4 separate regions of the Homo sapiens genome follow, and all the other regions are reported to be linked to region 3. Evidence: microRNA targets listed by miRTarBase, many of them from high-throughput screens and not tested one by one. Region 3 holds a microRNA gene; each other region holds the end of a gene's coding sequence.
Evidence for each region. The annotated mature microRNA hsa-miR-4474-3p reads UUGUGGCUGGUCAUGAGGCUAA and lies in region 3 at 1,916-1,937, shown strand. An mRNA with a match to its seed (bases 2 to 7 or 8) in the 3' UTR can be bound and repressed. Matches are read on the target gene's strand: a 7mer-m8 pairs with bases 2 to 8, a 7mer-A1 pairs with bases 2 to 7 and ends in A, and an 8mer does both.

Region 1 (6,230 bases), not on the chromosome of region 3:
AACACGCAGTACATCTGCTTAGACTCGTGGGCATTGCTGTAGCCCTCACCATAGATGCAGGAGAACACGATCAAGGCGAAGACCTGCCGGGAGGGGAGGACCTGGTAGGGCTGGTGGCCGCCTGAGGGGCACACACAGCGGGGACCCTGATGGGGTGTACAGATGCTGGCCTCTCCCACTACTGCTGTCCCCTTTTGGGTTTTTGTTGTTGTTTGAGATGGAGTCTTGCTCTTGTTGCCCAGGCTGGAGTGCAATAGTGCGATCTCGGCTCACTGCATCCTCTGCCTCCTGGGTTCAAGCAATTCTGCCTCAGCCTCCCTAGTAGCTGGGATTACAGGTGCCCTCCACCACACCCGTATTTTTAGTAGAGATAGGGTTTCACCATGTTGGCCAGGCTGGTCTGGAACTCCTGACCTCAGGTGATCCACCCTCCTCGGCCTCCCAAAGTGCTGGGATTACAGGCATGAGCCACCTCGCCCAGCCTGCTGTCCCCTTTTGGAGGCTGACATCTTAGCCCCTCCAAACTTGTGGAGGTGAGCTGATGAGCAAAGTGCTTCCTGATGCACCCCAGGATGAGAATCTGCAGGCACCAGGGGGCCTGCCCCTGGGAATCCTGGACCGGGGAGGGGTGGGGAATGGGCAGGGACCTCCTAGGCAGGGGCTGCTCCTGCCCCATCGGCCTGCTGCAGGAATCATTCTGCTTAGGTACCTGATGGATGAAGGGCAGTCCTTCCATCCCCAGCCCAACCTCACCTTGAAAGAGGTTTAACCAAGACAGGCCAAGTCACAAAGACTACCCATCCCCCGTCACCTTCAGCCCAAGTCACTTCTACAGCACCCAGCCTCTGCCTGAACACCTTGGTGAAGGTGGACAGGCCCTCTTGGGAAGGCCATGCTGGCGCCCCTGTGTCTTCACCTCCTGGAACCCCTGGAACCCTCCCTGGTTCAGCCTGGCCAGCTGTCTCCACACAAGGACTTGCAGCCTCTGTGGCATCCTGGTCCCTCCCAGTCTGTCTCCCACCCCACAGAGGGCCCTGCATGCACAGGGCACTACAAGGGGACTAACTCAGGCCTGTGGATACAGCTCTGAACTCAGACACCTGGAGGACCCAGGGTGGATGTAGGGGAGCTCCAGCCCCTTGGGAAGAGCCCCATACCACCTCCCTAAACTTGAAGGCCACCACCCACGCCTGCTCCACCTCAGCAGGTGTGGGACAGGTCTGTGAGCATCAGGATCCCTCTGGGATGGCCCCAGGACTCTCCCCTGCCAGTCCTGCCCTGTTGTCCCAGGGAGCTCTCCATAGGGCTCTGGAGCTGGCAGTCACAGGCCCCGCCCCCAGATGGAGATGAAGCCGGATCTCCGGGATGATGGGAGCAGGGTGCCCATCCAGGACTCCTGGCACTGCCATCCCGACCCACTGGGCACCTGATTCTTGGACACAGCCCAGGACAGAGGCGATCAGATCCCACAGCCTGGCTGGGAGCTGGTGTGGGCGCCCTGGAGGACCTCAGAAGCTCCAGGCCCAGGCATGGTCTGGGCACAGCAGGCCCACCTCTGCCTGCCCCCTCATGCCACCCCCTCCAGCTTTCAGGGCTGGCTGTCCAAGAACAGGCCCCCTCCCCGCCACACACACACACACACAAAACCTGGTTTTGGAGGTATTGCCCACCTTACAGGGAGGGGGTACATCTTGGGGTCCCTCAACTTCGGGTGGGAAGGCGGACCCGTGGCCTGCCCCGAGTGGGAAGGACACCCTGTTTCCGGGCGTTGGGTCGCCCCCCGCCCCCTCCCTTACCCCACGTGGCTTCGGAAAACCCCGTCCCGGTGAACTCCCCAATCTGGGAGTCGCGGCGTGCGGGCCACCTGTCCGGGAGCCGCCCCCAAACTCCTCCCACTGCCAGCGAGGCAGGGGCCCGCTCCCTGCGGAGATCCGGACACCCCGCGTCGGGGCGCGAGGCTGGGGGTGGGGTGGGTGGCGGGACCCGGGACCGGGAGGGGACAGCGGGACAGACTGTGGAGGGCGGGAAGGCGGGGCCCGGGACGCTGGACGCCGGCCCCGCTCGCCGCCAGGCCCCGGACGCGGCCGCCGCCACCTGTCGCGCTCGTGGGCTAGGGGCCCCGCCGGGCCTGGCGACGGAGAGGGGGTCCCCAGGGTGCCCTCGGCCCGCCCTCCCCGGGCTCACCAAGCACACGGCGCGCGCCACCACCTGCGGCTGCGTCAGGAAGCGCCGCAGGTCGAAGGAGCCGCCCGCCTTGGCCGCGCCGTAGGCCCCGCTCTCCATGTCGCCGTCGCCGCCGCTGCCGCCGCCGCGGAACGCAGAGGAACCTGCCCGGCGCCCCGCCCGACTCCACCCGCCGGGGGCGTGGCCAGGCGCCGCTAGGGACCGAGGGCAAAGTGCGGCCCTCGCGAGCGGCGGGCGAGCCGCGGGACTGCGCTTCTAGAGGCGGGGAGGGGCTGTGGCCGCGGAGCACCCGGGTCCACCCCACCTCGGGGTTGAGGGGCTAGTCTCCGGGCCACGCCGGCCGCAGCACGGACCAGAAAGGGTCAGAGAGTCCCCCGGGAAGACGGACGAACTGAGGACCGCTCACCCTCTTTGCCCCTGCCCTCCCACCGCCTCCTCTAGGAAGCCCACCACCTACCAAGAACCCACCCAGGCTCATAAGCAACCCCTCCCCCATCCCACTGAAAAACCCAGGCCACACCCTGGAGCCCCTCCCTGCCTGGCCTGCCACTCTTTCCTCCTCTCTGGGGCTAAGCCTGGGGTAGGGTCAAAGACCCCCTCCCCATTCCTCCTGGTCTGGGCAGAGCCCCAAGGCTGTGAAGGGCAGTGTGGCGTCACACTTAAGATGGTGTGCAAGGCCGGGAGCGGTGGCTCACACCTGTAATCCCAGCACTTTGGGAGGCCGAGGCGGTTGGATCACCTGAGGTCAGGAGTTCGAGACCAGCCTGACCAACATGGAGAAACCCCGTCTCTACTAAAAATACAAAAATTAGCCTGGTGTGGTGGTGCATGCCTGTAATCCCAGCTACTCGGGAGGCTGAGGCAGGAGAATCGCTTGAACCTGGGAGGTGGAGGTTGCGGTGAGCCGAGATTGTGCCATTGCACTCCAGCCTGGGCAACAAGAGCAAAACTCTGTGTCAAAAAAAAAAAAAAAAAAAAAAAAAAAGATGGTGTGCAAGGCCGGGCGCAGTGGCTCACACCTGTAATCCCAGCACTTTGGGAGGCCGAGGCGGTTGGATCACCTGAGGTCAGGAGTTTGAGACCAGCCTGGCCAACATGGTGAAACCCCGTCTCTACTAAAAATACAACAACAACAAAAAAATTAGCTGGGCGTTGTGGTAAGCGCCTGTAATCCCAGCTACTTGGGAGGCTGAGGCAGGATAATTGCTTGAAACCGGTAGGCAGAGGTGGCCGTGTGCTGAGATCGAGCCACTACACCCCAGCCTGGGCAACAGAGCAAGAGTCCATCTCAAAACAAACAAAACAAACAAACAAACAAACAAACAAACAAAACCAAAAACGAAAGTTAGCGAGGCGTGGTGGCAGCTACTAGCAGTCCCAGCTATTCCAGAGGCTGAGGTGGGAGAATTGTCTGAGCCCAGGAGGCGGAGTTTGCAGTGAACCAAGATCACGCCTTTGCACCCCAGCCTGGGTGACAGAGTAAGACCACATATCGGCCGGGCGTGGTGGCTCACGCCTGTAATTCCAGCACTTTGGGAGGCTGAAGCAGGCGGATCACGAGGTCAGGAGATCGAGAACACCCTGGCCAACATGGTGAAACCCCGTCTCCACTAAAAATACAAAAATTAGCTGGGCATGGTGGCGCGTGCCTGTAGTCCCAGCTACTTGGCAGGCTGAGGCAGGAGAATCGCTTGAACCCGGGAGGCGGAGGTTGCAGTGAGCCGAGATTGCACCATTGCGACAGAGCGAGACTCCATCTCAAAAAAAAAAAAAAAGAAAAGACCACATATAAAAAAATATATATATGGCATGCAAACAGAAATGAAGTTTTCAGGGCGACAGGCAGATGGCAAAGTTTAATCCAGTTCCAGTTCAGCCCCCTCTCGCCTCCGTCCCTCTCTACCTCCATCCCAAGAAAAACCGGTACAGAGGGTCTGGTGCAGGGTAGGCTGGGGCAGGCTCTGTGTGTGTTGGAGTGGGGAGCGGAGGTTGTACAGACAGAGGTGTGGGATCACAGGCTGACTGAACCCGGAAGAATTCCAGACCCCCCTTTGCTAGTTGCAGGTGCAGATTAACAACAGCAGGTGTGCCAGGTGGGGCTCACAGTCAACCCAGGTGAGCTGGACCACGTGAGAGTTGAACCATAGGACTGGGCCACCAGGAGGTGGGGTGCCTCTCCAGGGAAGAGGGGAGCAGGTGGGGGGGAGGGGCTGGGCCTTTTCGCAGTGTGCCCCCCTCCCTCTCCCTACACCCAGAGAGATGTGACAGCACCTGAGAGGCGAGGACAGGGCCACACAGACCCCCTTATTTCTGTGACCCTCCTGAAGCCCTCACACCAACAGTGTCTGTGTTTGCTGAAGGCCACCAGCACTCCAAGAATCCCAGCTGGCAGGCTTTTTTCTTTTTTTTAAATAAATGTTTTTGTGTATATTTAAGGTAGACAACCTGATATGATGGGATTCATATAGATAATATAGATAGCACAAAGGTTCCTATAGCGAAGCAAGTTAACATATCCACCATCTCTCATAGTTACCCTTTTTTTTTTTTTTTTTTTTTTGTGGCAAGAGCAGCTAAAACACACTCATTTTGCATGAACTCCAAATACGAACAGTGCACGCTGATGGCCTGCAGTCCTCTGCCGTGCTTGGCTCTCTGGACGGTTCATTCTACATGGCTGCTGCTTTGCGTCCTCTGACCTCCCCATTCCCTATCCTGAACCCCCCAAACTCCTCTTCACTCAGACGGCGGGTGCTCCTGTAGAGCGGCAAGGCAAGGATGGGGCTCTCCAGGGGACCCTGCCAGTCCTCCATCTTCTGGTCACCACCTTGACAAAGCAGTGGAGACTCAAGTCAGGCAGGCTCACCTCCCAGCCATCCCCTCCCGAGGCGTCTGAGAGTGTTCGTTTGTTTTGAGACGGAGTTTTGCTCTTTTTGTCCAGGCTGGAGTGCAATGGCACGATCTCGGCTCACTGCAACCTCCACCTCCTGGGTTCAAGTGATTCTCCTGCCTCAGTCTCCCGAGTAGCTGGGACTACAGGTGCGCACCACCACGCCCGGCTAATTTTGTATTTTTAGTAGAGACGGGGTTTCTTCATGTTGGCCAGGCTGGTCTCGAACTCCTGACCTCAGGTGATTCGCCTGCCTCAGCCTCCCAAAGTGCTGAGATTCCAGGCATGAGCCACTGTGCCCGGCCTGCCTCTGGGAGTTTTATGGTGCCAAGCACATCAGTGCCCCAGCAGAAGAGACATGAGGCTTACTCACCCCACTAAATGAAGGCTGTACCCCATTTTACAGAAGGAAAAACTGAGGCTCGGCGAGGTGACATGGCTCACCCACGAGTCTGGCTTCTGGAAAGAACAGACTTGGTAGAAGTGAGATGGGAAAGTGCCAAGGACAGACTCCTGGTAGAGCCACGTAAGGGCCTGGGCCACGGGCAGAGGATGAGAACCAGGACACGGCAGTGTCTCCCAAACAAAGAGAGATGAGTTCACAGAGGCAGGGCTGGCCACCACCAAAGCCAGACAGGCAGAGCACACAGGCCTGTGGTGCCTGCACTCAGACACTACAAAGGCCTTGGTCACTTTACATGTTAGTAAAGCCATGGCCTTGGAGAGGGGACCCTGGGAGGCTGGGCCCCAGGCTCTTGCCACCACCTCGGAAAGACTGCCCAAGGTGGTTCTCACAGAAGGCAGGAGCTCCTGGTCCACCTTGGTCTCCTGGAGGCATCATCCCTGCAATCCCTGCTCAGACCCCATAAAGAACTTAGGAGACTGCCCTCCCAGAGGCCAGCAGACTGTGTTACAGGGCACCTGGGAGCACTGGTCAGGGTCCGATAACGCCTTGAATGTGTAAGCCTCAGTAGGCACATGGCACACAGTAGGTCCTCATAAACACCTTCGAGTCATGCGTAAGCGGTGATGGCCGCTCTTTGCCCTGGCCACAGCCCTGCCCTGCAAGCCCCACCACCTGAGCTCTGCAGCCAGGGCCCGGTTGGACCTCTCAGGCCATCAGCAGCTCTCCCTCCTCCCTGCATCGAGCACCCAT
Region 2 (6,000 bases), not on the chromosome of region 3:
GTGTAGTCTCATGGGTGGCCTGGCACTGAGTAATTACTTGGCTAAAGAAAGCTGGAGGTTGAAGAGGCTAGAAAGCGTTGTTTTCTGACAAGTTTGCTGCTGAACTTTGGATGCCCTAACCTCAGTGTTAACGTCTATGTCTGCTTCTCTCCTCTCTCTTTTGCCTTCCTTCTTGCCTATTTTGTTGACACCCTGACTCTTCTAGATCCTAGCTATCGTTCTTTTCACTCTGGTGGATATGGCCAGGATGCCTTGGGTATGGACCCCATGATGGAACATGAGATGGGTGGCCACCACCCTGGTGCTGACTATCCAGTTGATGGGCTGCCAGATCTGGGGCATGCCCAGGACCTCATGGATGGGCTGCCTCCAGGTGACAGCAATCAGCTGGCCTGGTTTGATACTGACCTGTAAATCATCCTTTAGGTAAGAAGTTTTAAAAAGCCAGTTTGGGTAAAATACTTTTACTCTGCCTACAGAACTTCAGAAAGACTTGGTTGGTAGGGTGGGAGTGGTTTAGGCTATTTGTAAATCTGCCACAAAAACAGGTATATACTTTGAAAGGAGATGTCTTGGAACATTGGAATGTTCTCAGATTTCTGGTTGTTATGTGATCATGTGTGGAAGTTATTAACTTTAATGTTTTTTGCCACAGCTTTTGCAACTTAATACTCAAATGAGTAACATTTGCTGTTTTAAACATTAATAGCAGCCTTTCTCTCTTTATACAGCTGTATTGTCTGAACTTGCATTGTGATTGGCCTGTAGAGTTGCTGAGAGGGCTCGAGGGGTGGGCTGGTATCTCAGAAAGTGCCTGACACACTAACCAAGCTGAGTTTCCTATGGGAACAATTGAAGTAAACTTTTTGTTCTGGTCCTTTTTGGTCGAGGAGTAACAATACAAATGGATTTTGGGAGTGACTCAAGAAGTGAAGAATGCACAAGAATGGATCACAAGATGGAATTTATCAAACCCTAGCCTTGCTTGTTAAATTTTTTTTTTTTTTTTTTTAAGAATATCTGTAATGGTACTGACTTTGCTTGCTTTGAAGTAGCTCTTTTTTTTTTTTTTTTTTTTTTTTTGCAGTAACTGTTTTTTAAGTCTCTCGTAGTGTTAAGTTATAGTGAATACTGCTACAGCAATTTCTAATTTTTAAGAATTGAGTAATGGTGTAGAACACTAATTCATAATCACTCTAATTAATTGTAATCTGAATAAAGTGTAACAATTGTGTAGCCTTTTTGTATAAAATAGACAAATAGAAAATGGTCCAATTAGTTTCCTTTTTAATATGCTTAAAATAAGCAGGTGGATCTATTTCATGTTTTTGATCAAAAACTATTTGGGATATGTATGGGTAGGGTAAATCAGTAAGAGGTGTTATTTGGAACCTTGTTTTGGACAGTTTACCAGTTGCCTTTTATCCCAAAGTTGTTGTAACCTGCTGTGATACGATGCTTCAAGAGAAAATGCGGTTATAAAAAATGGTTCAGAATTAAACTTTTAATTCATTCGATTGTGTCACTCTTTCTTTTTTTCTTGTCATTAATAAATGGTTTGTGAGGGTGGTAAGTAAGTTTATCCAACTCAACTTTATCCTGAACTTTATCCTGAGATAGATAGATACATAGTGAAGTAATTTGTTGTAGCGATAGAGAGGGCCCTACTTCTCTAGATGCAATTTGCCAAGTTTCTTTAGCATTTGGCCCTGGATTACGCTGGACCCCTAAAAAAGTGTTTCAGCCTTGCACATTGTGATTAGTTCTGGGCTTTGGTGGGAGAAAGCCAAGCAGACTATCCATCTATCTATCTCTACCCCAATCCCCCTCAGATGATTTGATTCCATTAAAGTAATGAAATAAATAGTAACTACCCCTACCTGGATTTGGATTTGAATCACCTTCACCCAAGTGTGACTCATTGGGAGAGGGGAATTCCTTCAACTGGACTTTGAACTAATAATAATTAAATAAATTAAATAGGTTTAAGTGTTGATGTTTATCTGAACATAATCAGAACCAGAATGAGCCTTCCACAGTACCTGCCAGATGATCCTATCATCCCGGTGGTAGGTCTGACAAGCTTAGTTCATCTCATCTCTTCAGGTAGACCTGTTTGTTAAGACTTGTGTTTTGGTCTTTTAAAAAGTAAAAGAAAGAAGTGTTTTGTCTTTAGGGAGAGCTCTTTCTGATTTACTGTTTTTATTTTGATGATGATTGATAGTGACTATTAATTATGAGAAAAACATACATTCAGTTCTTTTTCGTTAAAAATCAGCTTCATCTGGGGAGGCCTTTTTGTGAATGCCCTTGCTTTGCAAAAATGAATTCATTGTGGTCTAAAATGTAATTAGGGTTTGAAAAGAAACATTCACATAGCTGATGATGTGGTAGGTCTCAGGTTCTGTCTCATGTGTGATAAACCAAACCAGCCAGTATTTCAAGAAGCCTAGGGCTATTGGTAGGTTAACACCGTGAAGATCTTCAGTGAATTCAGCTTTTAACATAAAGAGCCACCGCACGGTGTTTCAATTACAGAAAGAACAACTTTTTAAAACCAGAGAATGTTTTCAGAGCTTTGCTAATTCATTGTATTTTATTTTTGAAGTTTAAAAACTTAATGTGAGAGTTAATCCAGTTCAACAAGGTGGCTCTGGAAGTACCAAGGGTGAATAATAGCCAAGACGCTTAGGAAAAATAGCACTTGCTCTAGCAGCTGTCAAGGCCTAACTACTTAATACAAAGCTAAAGTTAGTTAACCCTGTTACAGGAATAGGGATATAAATACAGATTAATACAGAATAATACACAGGCATTTAAAGACTCTTCAGAGACAGCGTTGGAGATCCGAGTGGGAGGAGAGCAACTTTTTCATAAAGGTGTGAAACAGCCGTTGGAATAAAACAATACAGAAAAACATCCATGACCCAACAAAATATCAAGATTTTAAATAAAGGCAGTAGTACTGATTTTTCTTTTGCCTCAAGCGCCAGTAAGGCTTGGTAGGGCACAACGCTGACAGTCTACACTGGACGCCCATGTGTCCAACAATCTCTGTTCACACGAGACAGTGCAGTGAAAAACTACAGCTTCAGTGATGTGGGTGTCAGTATAGTATGCATATATCTATCTCACATAACACTGAACAAAAGCAAGTTACAGATGCATGCTTTAGAACTCCATTGATCATCAATTAAAAAAAGGGACAAGCTATTTTAAGGAAAATATCCACAGATGGAGCAAGGAGATGATTAGATGACTATAGAAATCAGAATAATGGTTAACCTGGAGAGGGAGGTGCATGGGATGCTGGCAAGGTACCTAACCTTTCCTGTAAATAGTGGTGAAGAAAGTGAGGTCAAGTTTTCAATAAGAGAAGTAGTGGTGGGGAGGAAAAGGCCTAAAAGGAATGCTGCCCACTTGCATTTCCGGGTACAGGAGGTGAAAATGACAAAATGAACATGGCCGTTGAGAATAGGAGGGCTTTCCAGCCTGAGTGTTCTTTTTTCAGTTGTGCTGTAGTTATGAGACAGCCTTGAGAGTTAAGACATTTGATCCCATTGCAGCAACCACCATTGAACCAAAGAAGGAAGCTTTTCTATGTTGGAGCAGATCTTACAGACATGAGGCTTTGAAATCTGATGATCTGAATCCTTAATAATGAAAGATCTTAAGATAAACACACTCTTTAACTCTTGGTTGCTATAATAAAAAGATGTGAATTGTGCTGTTTTGTTTATAAAGCAAAAATGCTAAGTTGATCTGCAGTTCTATTAAGTGAGAACCTGCCTTTCCTTGCCTTGAGCAGATCACCCACCAAAGTGAAATTATGAAATGATGGGGCTGCAGGGGCTGTCAGGGCAGTTCTTCCTTTTTCTTTTATCGCAGCCTCCTATGTGGAATTCTGTATAATATCCATTCCACCACTTGAGACTCCAGTAAACGTAGAAGGAAGTGACAAGTTTCAGAGTTGAGGTTGTGGGGGAAGGTCAGAACAGGTATAGGGGTATGCAGGAAGGCAAAGGAGAAACCCCATCTCTATGTATTTCCAAAGTAGGTTTTGGCATGAATAGGGAAAGGTCCGTGTGTCCATAAATGTAATTTCCATGTTAGGTACGACTGAGAGCCACTCTGTGACAAAGCAGTTCTACTCAGAATTATTTGAGGTATACTCACGAGTATGTACAAGGAATTCATTGCAACACTGTCAAAGATAGCAACCCAAATAGGTGTCAAAAGGGAACCTAACTAGTTAAGCAAATTTTGATGCATCTATTTGGTGGACCACTCTGCAGTCAAAGGGGGGAAAAAAAACCAGCCCATAAAGCTGTGTTTTGGAATAAAATGGTCTTCAAAATACATAGTAAGAGAAAAAGCAAGGAGCAGAGTTGACAGCTGCTCACATATGGGTAAAAAGGGGTGGGTGCAGAATCTTTGTGAAGATAGGCATAGACCATCCCTGGATGCACACGAAGACCCTAGTGGCAATGGGCACCTTGCAGGAGGAGACAGGGAGAGGACTAACAGCGTGTGAGGGAGGAACTCTGCTGTCTATCTTTTGGGTGTTTTCACCAGGCTTCATTTGTACCAGGCTTCTGGATTGGATATCACCATTCAAATGTAATTATTTATTAAAACACCTAATGGATGCATTTGTCCACCCGCCTCAACATCAAGCCTCTGATGGGAGAGGCCAGAGGCTGGATTTTAAGGGCAGATTAAAACTCCTCGTTCTAGGCCCAGCTTCTTGCTCCCACACACCACTTCTCAACCCCACTGAAGCTTGAGGCCAAGGCTGCCTAGCTTTGCCTAGTCTCGCCCAACCCCACTCCAGACAGCTGTCCCAAGAGGCCAAGCCTCTTGTAGCTTTCTTGCAGCCTCTTCCCCCGTTCCCTACCACTTGCTACCGTAGCCCCTGTATGTATAAGATTATATTCTACATTGCATTTTTCTGTTGCCAGGGGAAAGAGAAAGGGCATCTTGCTTCAGGTGGAGACAGGTGAGACCTGGTGAGGGAGATTCCTCTCCCATCACCTTGTACGAGAGCCTTAGCTACCAGAGCCCCCATTTTCTCAACTATAACACAGGGATGATGCCCGCCCTGTGTTCACAGAACCGACCTGAGAACCTCATAGGAGAAACTTGAAAAGATAAACTGCAAAGAACCATAAGATAGTAAATTCTGTTGCTGCATTCCACTGACTCACCTACTTAGGTGCCATGAGTGATTGTCAGCACCTTTCAGGACACCTGTGACCAGAGTTACCCCAAATGGTGCTTCACGGAGGGACAGCTTAATGGGGATGCAGACTCGGCTGTAAGTTAAGGCAAGGTCTTAGAACTTTGGGCTTGCTGTTAGTGGAGGGAGAGGAATAGACCTGTGTGCAGCCACTCACCTGAGCCGCCTCTGCCCTATTGCTTGTCACCTCCTTTGCCTCTCACCTCTGTGACTTCAGTGACCCATTCATCCCTGAAGAGAGCCAGTGGATTGTAGCTAATAAGCAGATAGCTGAAGCTTGGGGATGGAGGGAAGGAGAGGGCTAGTAGGTGTGGGCCCTTTGCCACTGCCAGAATCCTAAGAGCTGAGGGGCCCGGGGGGCCAGCTCTGCTCTCAGAATGGAGCCACTTAGGCATGCCAAATACTAAGGTACAGGCCTGGGGAGGGCAGGGAAGGGTTACTGCTGTTAGCTGCCCTCTGCCCAACCAGTCTGCTCATATCCCCTACCTCTGAACTCAAATGGACCTGGGCTGCTGCTTTCCATAGGCACCTTTCCTCCAGGACACAGCCTCACCAGGGACAAGGCTTGGCATGGACTAGCTTTAGTGGCCCAACATGTTTGGCAGGGCAGTGGCTCTGCTTGGGACCATCATCTCCTTGTCCTTGCTTACCCAGATAAGCTTTTCCCCAGACAGGCAACACCGGGGCCTAGGGCCAGGACTGGCCCACTGAACAAAATGGCTCTGGAATATTAAGAGTTTCCTGTTCTCTGTTAAACAGCG
Region 3 (5,000 bases):
GTTTTGTTTCCTTTGGATGTATACACAGTTTTGGAATTGCTAGGTCAATAATTTAATTTTTGAGGAACCTTAAAATTTTCCATAATGGCTATACTAGTTTTCATTCCCACCAACAGTATACAGTGGATCCTTTTTCTCTGCTCTCTATATCCTTGCAAAAATCTATCTTCATCTTTTCGATAATAGCCATTCTAGCACGTGTGAAGTGATATCTCATTGTGGTATTAATTTGCATGTCTCTGATGATTAGTAATGTTGGGCATTTTTTCATACACCTGTTGCCTATTTGTATGTCGTCTTTTGAGAAATGTCTTTTCAAGTCCTTCACCCATTTTAAAATCAGGTTATTTATTTTCTTGCTATTGAGTTGTTTGAGTTCCTCATATATTTTGGATATTAGTCTTTTATCAGATGCATGGTTTGCATATATTTTTTTCCAGGCTGCAGGTTGTCTTTCAGTGTGTTGATTGTTTTCTTTGCTGTGCAGAGCTCTTTAGTTTGATGTAATCCCAGTTATCTATTTTTTTGTTTTTGTTTTTGGTTGCCTGTGCTTTTGGGGTCATATCCAAAGAATCATCACCCAGAATAATGTCATGGAGAATTTCTGCTATGTTTTCTTCTAGTATTTTTATGGTTTCAAGGTTTACATTTGAATCTTTAGTCCATTTTGAGTTGATTTTTATATTTAGTATGAAGTAAGGGTCGAATTTCATTCTTATGTGTGTGGTGTCCAGTTTTCCTAACACCATTTATTGAAGAGGCTGTGCTTTCCCCATTGTGCATTCTTGGCACCTTTGTTGAAAATCAATTGACTGTATATGTGTAGATTTATTTCTGGGCCCTCTATTCCATTCCATTGATCTGTGTGTCTCTTTTTATACCAGCAGCATGCTGTATTGATTACTGTAGCTTGGTAGTATACTTTGAAGTTAGATAGTGTGATGCCTCTAGCTTTGTTCTTTTTGCTTGAGATTACTTCAGATATTTGGGGTCTTTCGTGGTTCCATACAAATTTTAGGATTGTTTTTTCTATTTCTGTAAAAAATGTCATTGAAATTTTGATTGGGGAATCTGTAGATCACTTTGGGTAGTGTGGACATTTTAACACTATTAATTTCTCCACTTGTGAACACAGTATGTCTTTCCACTTATTTGTGTTGTCTTCAGTTTTTTTCATCAATCTTTTATAGTTTCTGGTGTACAGGTCTTTCAACTTCTTGGTTTAAATTTTTTCCTAAGCATTCTGTTCTTTTTGGTTGCTGTAGTGAATGGATTGTTTTCTTAATTTATCTTTCAGATAGCTCATTGTTAGCATATACAGATGCTACTGATGTTTGAAAAATGATGTTGATTTTGTTTCCTGCAGCTTCACTGAATTTATTTATTAGTTCTAACAGTTTTTTGATGGAGATGTTAGGGTTGTTTGTCTACAGTCATTCCTCAGTATCTGCAGGGGATTGGTTCCAGGACCTCCTGTGGATACCCAAACCCATGGATTCTGAAATCTCTGATATAAAATAGCATAGTATTTGCATATAACCTATGCACATTCTCCTGTATACTACACATTATCTCTAGATTACTTATAATAACTAATACATTGTAAATGTTATATAAATAGTTGGTATACTGTATTGCTTAGGGAATAATGACAATAAAAAAGTTCAGTACAGATGTAATTTTTTCTCCTAATATTTCAATCTGTGGTTGGTTGAATCCACAGATGTGGAACCCATGGATATAGACAAGCAACTGTATAAGATCACGTTGTCTGCAAGTTTTTTCACCTCTTAAAAATACTTGGTGGCTAGCTATTACCTGTAGAATTCAGCTCCTTACAGTGCTATGTAAGGAACATCACAGGCTGGCATTTGCCTACCTTGTTAGTCTCATGATCAGACACAAATATGGCTCTTTGTGGCTGGTCATGAGGCTAACAAGGTAGGCACCTGGAACCACACTTCAAGTCAGGTTCATTTGTGGTGCCCTGTCAAGCCAGGCATTCTGTATACTCTGGAATTTTTGCTTACATTTTAACTTTGTCAACAATCAGTACTCTTCGTTTTATTATTGTCAGATATTTACCTACTTTTCCTTAAAAGGTAGTCCCCCCCCCCCCCTTTTTTTTTTTTGAGATGGAGTTTCGCTCTTGTTGCCCAGGCTGGAGTGCAATGGCACCATATTGGCTTACTGCAACCTCCGCCTCCCATGTTCAAGTGAATCTCCTGCCTTAGCCTCCCCAGTAGCTGGGATTACAGGTGTGTGTCACCACCCCCAGCTAATTTTTGTATTTTTAGTAGAGACGAGGTTTCACCATATTGGCCAGGCTAGTCTCGAACTCCTGGTCTCAGGTGATCTGCCTGCTTTGGCTTCTCAAAATGCTGGGATTACAGGTCTGAGCCACCTCGCCTGACCTCTTGGGTGCGGTTTTTTTTTTTTTTTTTTTTTTTTTTTTTGAGACGGAGTCTCGCTCTGTCGCCCAGGCCGGACTGCGGACTGCAGTGGCGCAATCTCGGCTCACGGCAAGCTCCGCTTCCCGGGTTCACGCCATTCTCCTGCCTCAGCCTCCCAAGTAGCTGGGACTGCAGGCGCCCGCCACCGCGCCCGGCTAATTTTTTGTATTTTTAGTAGAGACGGGGTTTCACCTTGTTAGCCAGGATGGTCTCGATCTCCTGACCTCATGATCCACCCGCCTCGACCTCCCAAAATGCTGGGATTACAGGCGTGAGCCACCGTGCCCGGCCGGGTGTGGTTTTAACTGAGTCTCCTAGGTCTTAATGAGGGCTCCTTTGGATATTGTAAGTAATAATCATGGTTGTTGGTAAATTTGTCTTCATAGTTAGATGCCTTAACTATGTGAGGGGAAGGAAACTGTCTTATTTGCCTTCGTCACCTCACACATAGCAGAAGGCCTGGTATGTATTCAGTGTTCCATCAATATTTATTGTGTGGAATTTATTTTCCATTACATTTTATGGAGAATGAGAGAATCTTAAAGTAAATGAGGTGTCCTAGAAATGGTATATTTGAATAAAGATTTGTGACATCATGATTTATGGAAGTAGAAAGGGAAATATAGTAATTCCTAGGCATTTTAACTAGTGAATGGATACCATGAACCATAATTGGTAAATTATCCAAAAATCAATCATATTTAGCTAAGGAAAGTGGTGCACATGTGTGTGCATGTGTGTGTGTATCTGTGTGTTTTATAATGGGAAATTCACTTTAAACTAATGAAAGAATGATTTGAAACTCTGAATTATAGGCAATTCTTAATAATTATTGGGAGGGCTAGAGTGTAACCCAGGTTTCTGGGCATTGAACTTAAAGAAGACATTGAACTGGAGGGAGTTGAAAATGATGCAGCTGTGCATCAAGAGATTGCTATTAGTTTCTCTATATGACCTGTGGTAAGTAACTTCTGAATTCGGTTTTTGTAACACAGAACACCTGGAGGACCAAAGTCAATAGGGTATACTCAACTGTAGTAGACAAGATGGAAAACAGTATTGGGAGAAATAAGAATGGGGAAAATATTGAGCCTGGGCATGTCAGTGTATAGCTTTGCCTTAGAATTTAATTTGAACTGAGTGGTCAATAGTTCTTGATGCCCCAGGGAGAACTAGGATATATTCTGGGGCAAATTGAATTTTCCAAAGATTTCCGTAAAGTTATCTTTCACCCACATGCTCTTCTCACAGTTGATTTTGCTACTTCTGTCTTTGAGAGGTAGGGTCTTTGTCTTTTCTTTTTGAAGCTAGGTTGGCTTTTGTGCCTGTTTCAGCCAATAGAGTAGTGCAGAAATGATGCTATGTGATTTCTGAAGCTAGATCAGAAAAGGTGATGCTCCTTTCTTTGTTGAAATACGGTGTTCAGTTGTGAAACCTGCAGCCTTCATGTAAGCAGTCCAGCTGCTCAGAGGCCATTGTGTTGTGAGGAGAGACCAAGGGCCCTGAGAAGACCAACTGTATTAAGCAGCCAGACCTTTGCCCTGCTAGCCCTGCACCGCTCTTGCTTCAGGCACCATTTCAGTGCAGCCAAATGAGAAACTCTGAGCTAGAACCACACAATCAAACCTTTCTGAGTTCCTGACCCTCAGAGAAAGTAAAATGGCTATTACTGTTTTAAACTAAGCTTGATGGTGACTTATTATGTATCAATAGATAATTGGAACATGTTTCTTTGGAGAAGCATTTTTCCATTTTCTGTTAGGTGGTATTGAAGGAAGACAGGGATGGAATAAGAGGCATCTCTGAATGCAGATTTAGAGTTGTCACTGCATTAACACCTGTTCCCCCACATTTTTTTTTAAGAGACAGGTTCTTGCTATGATGTCCAGGCTGGATTCAAAGCCCTAGGCTCAAATAATCCTCTCGCCTCAGCCTTCTGAGTAGCTGGGACTACAGGAGGATGCTACATTTTTACACCCTATTTGGAGACAGAACAATAGAGATCTTAAAAGAAACAGTCATACAAGTTTTTTTCTTCATGTACCTTTACCTAACAGTTGTTAATAAGGGGACAGCTCAGGGTAGACCCTTAAGCTGAGCTGATTGTATTGCAAGGAATGCATCTATTTTGGGGAAATAAGACCATGGGTAAATTCTGCAAATGATTTCGAAGGTATCTCTATGAGAACAGTTATTGCAGCAAAAATGGACTGTTTCAAGGAGGTCAGAGCTTATGTCAAATAATTTATTGTTCAGTGTGTGTTTTTTTTAAAGACAATGTTTTTAGAGCAGTTTGAAGTTCACAGCAAAATTGAGAGGAAGATGTAGAAATATCCTGTGTACCCTCTCCCCTCACACATGCATAGCCTCCCTGTATCATTTACAGTGGGTTTTAAAAACATATTAAACACTAAATGCCTGTTATGGGCTGAGTTATATCCTCCCAAATATATGTTGAATCCTAACCCCAGGTACCTTTGAATGTGACCTTATTTGGAAATAGTGTCTTTTGTAGATGTGATCAATTTAGGATGAGGTCATCATGGA
Region 4 (6,230 bases), not on the chromosome of region 3:
AGTGGATTCAAATCACCTGGGAGCTTCAAAAAATACAGATACTGATCTAATTGATCTGGGGTGTGATGTGGGGTCAGGAGTCTTAAAAGCTCCCTGAGTGATTCTAACATGCGGACAAAGTTGACAGCCCTTGTTTTAGCTCAGCTTCCAGAATCACGCACTCATTAGTTTTCCCATGGTATTCAGTGCCCTTTAACCTCTGTAGAGATTGATGACAGTACTGGCTCAAAATAGAAACAGTCAAAGAAAGGCAGACCTATTTATTTTTGCCTAGACAGGTTTCCCTGTGTTTCTAACAAACAATATAAACTGAATTTTCCTTATCTTTAAAATAAGGTTAAACCAAATGATTTCAAACTTTCCTGTGCTCAGTTCTGCTTTAATTAATATAATCCAGAGGACAGTATCCTGGTTACTTCTGTTTAGTTTAAATGGACAAAAAGGCAGAGTCTGTCATCAAGTAGGGAAATAAAAGAGAAGGGTTTTGGTTTGAAGCTGACCAGGCAACACTCTCTGCTCCTTAGAAGGCCTGGTAGCTGGTCTGGGCTGTTACTATTCAAAGTGTGGTCCATGGACCACTAGCATCAGCATCATCAGGGAATGGTTAGCAACACAAAACCTCTGGGCCCACACCAGACTTAATCAGATCAGGATCTGCAACTTAACAGAGTCTTCAGATGGTTAGTATGAACTTCAAAGTGTGAGAAGCACTGGCTTAGGCCACATTCTATTTACTTAGTGACCTGGACACCTACGTATACCTATGTCTGAAGGTCTGAAGACATCACATGTCTGCCTCTGAATGTGGTCTGTCAACTGCTTTTCTCTTCCCTAGGTGAGGAAGCTCTAAATGAATATCTCAAAACCAAGACGGTGACACTGGAATATTAGAGCAACACCATCATCAGGAAAGCCTTGACAGACAGCCCTTTACAACTCTGGACACACTTAAGAAGATTGGGTGTGTTGAGGCAGGAGGTGTCAGCCACAAACCAAAAAATACACAGATGGACCATGAAGAGGGCCAGGCCATGTTAAAGCATTTACACATGTGCCTGAGTATTTTCTAATACACCTTCCAGTGATTTGGAGTTGTTGCATTTTGACTATGTTGTATATCATACGTATTTCTAAAATACCAAGCTGTTTCTCCCCTACCTAGACAAATCTATTCATGGTTCCCATCTTGAAGATGTCAGTACCATGCAGTTATAATACACAAGGTGCATTTATTGGAAACTTTGTATAATATGTACAGGTTTTTAACCTCTGAACTATACATAGGGGGTTATTAAAAAGATTTTCTATAAGTCTTCTAAGGAACAGTATAACCTGTAAGGAATGTGAAGGTAGTTCTTTTTTAGTATTTGGAAATAAGATACATCTTTGTGCCTTTGATATTCCATTTTTTAACCCACTGTGATGGGTGATCAACCTAGAAACATTATCTTGAGTACCTACTAGGTACCAGGTACTATATTATGTTCTGAGGAGTATAGAGAATTTAATGATATGATGGCTGGCCCCCACATAGTTTAAATTTTAGTAAATAGCTTTTGAAGCAAATTTTACATATGATATAGTAGAAGGCTGATCCTGGTCGTATCATACCATCTTCCTATCTATGTAACTTTGGGAAACTCTCGCAACTCCTCTGAGCCTCTGCTTCCCTATGTGTAAAACAGGGATAGTAAATGCCTTCCTCAGGACCCTTAATAGGAGAATTCATTGCAGTAATGTAAGTAAAGCACCTCACATTAATGCTTTGCTCATGGTAAGTACTCAAATTTAACTCTGATTTCCTCCGTCACCATTCTTAAAAGATATTGAGATAGTTTAATTAACTAGATGAATTCATTTCCCACAACCCTTTTCAATCATCAATTCCTAGATATTTTTCTCATCCATTGTTCTGACACAATGCCTGATACAGCAGCACTGAAAAATGCCACACAATGAAAAATGGCAATAGTACAAGGAAAAGGGGTGCTTTTCTTTGGGCAGCTCGCTCGTCCTTCATGGGACATCTTACTTTCCATTTTTCTACCTATTGGTTCTGCTGTTCACTGGCTGTGTGATCTTGGGCAAGATAGTAATCTAATATCTCAGAGCCTAGGTTGAGTATCTATAAAATGAAAATCAAATCTCTATCTCAGTAGGTGTTGCAAGGATTCAGTGAGATAATATACATAATGCACTTAACAAGGCGTTTGGACCATAGCATTGAAGAAATGGAAACTATTAACAGCCCATTTCCCATTGGCAGACAGAAGTAGTCAGGTGAGTAAATTTTCACCATCTATGTGTGACTAGAAGGCGGCAAATTTCTGAATCACATGAGTCTCCAAAAGATAGCCAGAAAGTTAAATTCTATTAATCCTCCTTTAAAAATAAAATTTCAGTAAACATTCCTTTTTCTTTGGCTTTGAAGAAGCCTTAGGGAATATTTGTCATTTTGGAGACTTGGCAGAATAACATGAGGGGATTGTAGGGAATCAATAAAAACTAAACAACAAAATCAGAGTCAGAGAACATTTTCAAAAGGAAGAATAGGAGGTTTGATCCCAGCATGATAAACAGAGCGAATTTGGCCTGGAAGCACTTTTGATTATACTATAGCTCATTTACCATCCCAGAGTTTGGCACAGCTGAAATTTTAAGTTGGAATGAATATTCACTGGGCCCAAAATGACAGTTCATATTTGAATAAAAGTGACAAAAGCCTTTTTATAAGTAATCACTTTTAAGTGAAATGTTTTAACTGATTTCATGTGATTTAGAATATGATTTAATCAAATTATTTTAATGATAGATGGAATGGCAGACAAAAACATGCCTGTCCTTCTAGACTGATTTTACTTTACCCTCTAATATTCATCTCAGTAGCAGTGTTTTAAATATTCTCTGGGCTGCAAAACTCTTTGGGAATCTGATAAAAGCTATGAACACTCCCTGTGTCCCGCTTCTACCCCCAAAATTCATGTGCACACACACAATTCTGCAAGTATCTTCAAAGGGTTCACAGACCTCCCAAAGGCCATGCTTGGGCCCCAGATTAAGAACTCCTTTCTCCATAGCAAGTTTTAAACATTTCTTACCAGCTTACATTTTTAGATCTGGCTGATCAGAATCAAAGGCTCTGTGTAATACATAAAGTTACCAAGTGAACTGGAATTGGAACATCACCCTCCCCAGCCTGCTAGGTGATTTACTTAACACATAGAGTAATAAAATCATCGCTGTTGCTTTAGATCACGGATTATTTTGCTAATAATGCTAAGGATGAAGCTGTGATCTTATTATCACCTGAATCGGGAGGTGTGGACACTTTAAGCAGTTCCACTTTCCTTCTAATTCCCCATCCCCATGCCTTTGCTAAAGCTGTCCCTTTTGCTCTAACACCCTTCCTGGACCTTCCTACCCTAGCTGGGCTAAGTGTTTCTCCTCAGCGTTCCCACTTGTTTCAAACATAGCACTTACCACTTGTACTAAAATTACTTGCCTTCTTAATTAGATATGAACAACCCTCCCCAACTCCAGTATGGGCCTTCTGTCAATAATAATACGATATGACAGCTACCATTTATTAAGGGCCTCCTGTATGAAAGACCTTAGGCTAAGCATGTTTTAAATGTTATTTAATCTTCACAATCTCTGAAAAAAATGAAGAAATCAACGTGCTTTTCTTACTACCTCTACCCCTAAGCCATTATTACTTTTTTTTTTTTTTGAGACAGAGTTTTGCTCTTGTTGCCCAGGCTGCAGTGCAGTGGTGCAATCTTGGCTCACTGCAACCTCTGCCTCTTGGGTTCAAGCGATTGTCATGCCTTAGCCTTCCAAGTAGCTGGGATTACAGGTGTGTGCCACTACACCTGGCTAAGTAGAGATGGGGTTTCGCCATGTTGGCCAGGCTGGTCTTGAACTCCTGACCTCAAGTGATCCACCTGCCTCCGCCTCCCAAAGTGCTGGGATTACAGGCATGAACCACTGCACCTGGCCTGTTACCTCTTTCCTACAATTTTGCTCAAGTCTCCCAACTGGTCTTCTGGATTCCTCTCTTCTGCGGTCCTGTTCAAAGCTTAAGTCAGACAGTGTCACTTCACTCGTCTGTTTAAAACCTTTCAATGGCCCCCATTTCACGTAGACCAAAGTCCAACGTATTTACCTGGCCTACTGATCTTGCTCCTAGCTACCTCTGACCTCATCTCCTGTCAATTTCCCTCTCATTCTGTTCCACCATCCTGACTGCCTTGACTTCCTCAACAGAACAAGCCTGCTCCTGCCTCAGGGCCTCTGTCCTTATTCTTCCTCTTCCCAGGGGTGTGCTGGTAAAATATTTAACAAATAGTTCTCCGGGACGGGGGAGAAAACCCTCATTTGTAGCATTTGCAGGTATCTATGTGTAAATACTCTCATCAAGGCTATTTTTGAGCCACTAATTTGCCTTCACTGAATACAGAGTTTGGGAAGAGATGCATGCCATCAGAACAAATGCAAGCCAGCACCAGCACACCACTGCCTCTTCCTGCAACTCTTGTCCATACACAACCTCATGGCTGGCTGGCTCACTTCCTGCAGGTCTCTCCTCAAATATCATCTGATGAGAGACACATTCCCTGACTATGCTTTCTAAAATAGGCCATATGCCCCCACATTCATACCCCATCTGCTGTCATTCTTTATTCTTTTTATAAGTGCATTATTTTCATAGCACTTATCACTACCTGTTGTATATTAATCAATGATCTTTTCCCATTAGAATGTAAGTTTCATGAACAGGTACTTGTTTTAATACTGTATCTCCAGTCCTAATGTGTAACAGGAGCCCAATAAATGTTTGCTTTCAAATGGAGAGGTTAAGTAACCTGCTCAAATCACACAGCTATTAAGTGGCAGAACAGGTTTTCAAGCAATGCATCTGGTGGTTTTAACTAAGTCGAGATAGTTTTTATTCCTAATGCCTAAATCAGGGCCTAGGTAGTGAGCTGTGGGCACATATTAAGTATTGGTTAAACTAAAAATAATAAGCAAAATGGACATTATCTATAAAAGCTTTTGTGGAAATGGCTAGAGCTAGGGTAAGGAAACAAATTTGGTTCCCCATACCTGCCCTCCAAGAAAATAAAGCTGTCAAGGAAAATCTGGGCTAAGAGTAGGATATGAGGGATGATGGATAAGGCATGAGACATGAGAAATAAGGGGGATTAAATTATTATTACTATTATACAAATGATGCCTGAGTAGATTTTTAAAATGATTAAATACCCAATGATGTAAAAAACATTTATAAAATAGGAAAGTAAGACTGACTCAACCATAATTTGTTGAGTCAACCCAAAAATCTATTTGGTTATTTTCAAACAGAAATAGCCTACAGATGATATCTGAGATTGTTCCAAACTTTTTCTATGAATATGTATACTTTTTTTACATAATTAACATAATACTGTATATTAATTTGTTACCTGCTTTTTCAATTAACAATATATCATAAGCATCTATGCCAATAAACACAATTCTGCATATTTCAATGGCTTTAATTCAACATGTTGTCTATCGTCGGACATTTAGATTTGCTTTTTGCTATTTTAAATGTCACAAAAAATCTTATATAAAATTTATGACCAAAGCTACACTTATGTAATTAGAACAAATACCTGGAAGTGGAATTCCTGAATCAATAATCCCACCAACAATTTTCCCACATCTTTGCCAACATTGTGTATTACAAGTTATGCAATTAGTATCTCTATGCCAATTTTCTCAGCTGTGAAGTGAATATAAGCATATCTCACAAGGTGATAGGCTTTTTTGAAAAAAAAATAAGGAAATTTATTCTGCCACCAAAAACAGAGCCCAGCAATAGTGCAGTATACAAGTTATTTGATGCAGTGACTCTATAATGTTCTTTGCTCTTGTCTGCTATCTGTAGTGTGCTCACTTTACCCTCAAGAGCTGGCTCCATTCATGGCCACGAGAAAGGAGTTCCAGGAATCATATCCCATCATAATGATAGGGACAGGAGGCAGGAAAATTCTGAGCAGAAGAGGATGGGTCCCCAGCGAGGGCCCCACTCTTAAGCGTGGAACCACAGCCCAAAATGAGAACATGCATTCCCATTTTCCTGCTCGAATGTTGCCTTTTCCAAAACTATCCATGGCCCGCCCTACCCCAATCCTGTGCCCACAAAAACCCCAGCCCCTGCAAGTAGAGAGAGGAGAAGAGGAGCA

Region 1: the mRNA of C17orf99 is a reported target of hsa-miR-4474-3p. Seed matches in the 3' UTR shown: 7mer-A1 at 4,743-4,749.
Region 2: the mRNA of CTNNB1 is a reported target of hsa-miR-4474-3p. Seed matches in the 3' UTR shown: 7mer-A1 at 536-542.
Region 4: the mRNA of ALDH1L2 is a reported target of hsa-miR-4474-3p. Seed matches in the 3' UTR shown: 8mer at 984-991.

Annotation. Positions count from the first base shown.
Region 1 is chr17:78,164,670-78,170,899 of GRCh38, reverse strand. C17orf99 (chromosome 17 open reading frame 99) reads right to left here. Exons shown (of 5, transcript NM_001163075.2): 5 at 4,603-5,011. The coding sequence ends at 4,854. SYNGR2 (synaptogyrin 2) reads right to left here and starts at 2,319. Exons shown (of 4, transcript NM_004710.7): 1 at 2,185-2,319; 2 at 1-83. The coding sequence starts at 2,283. RefSeq lists silencers at 1,857-2,016, 2,047-2,656.
Region 2 is chr3:41,238,929-41,244,928 of GRCh38, forward strand. It overlaps CTNNB1 (catenin beta 1), which reads left to right. Exons shown (of 15, transcript NM_001904.4): 15 at 206-1,515. The coding sequence ends at 414. Among named protein-coding and RNA genes, the nearest start is that of CTNNB1, 42 kb to the left of the region's middle.
Region 3 is chr9:20,499,214-20,504,213 of GRCh38, reverse strand. MIR4474 (microRNA 4474) reads left to right here and starts at 1,872; the gene lies at 1,872-1,949. The region is part of intron 2 of MLLT3 (MLLT3 super elongation complex subunit); the gene reads left to right.
Region 4 is chr12:105,019,085-105,025,314 of GRCh38, reverse strand. It overlaps ALDH1L2 (aldehyde dehydrogenase 1 family member L2), which reads left to right. Exons shown (of 23, transcript NM_001034173.4): 23 at 836-5,525. The coding sequence ends at 891. Among named protein-coding and RNA genes, the nearest start is that of NOPCHAP1, 36 kb to the right of the region's middle.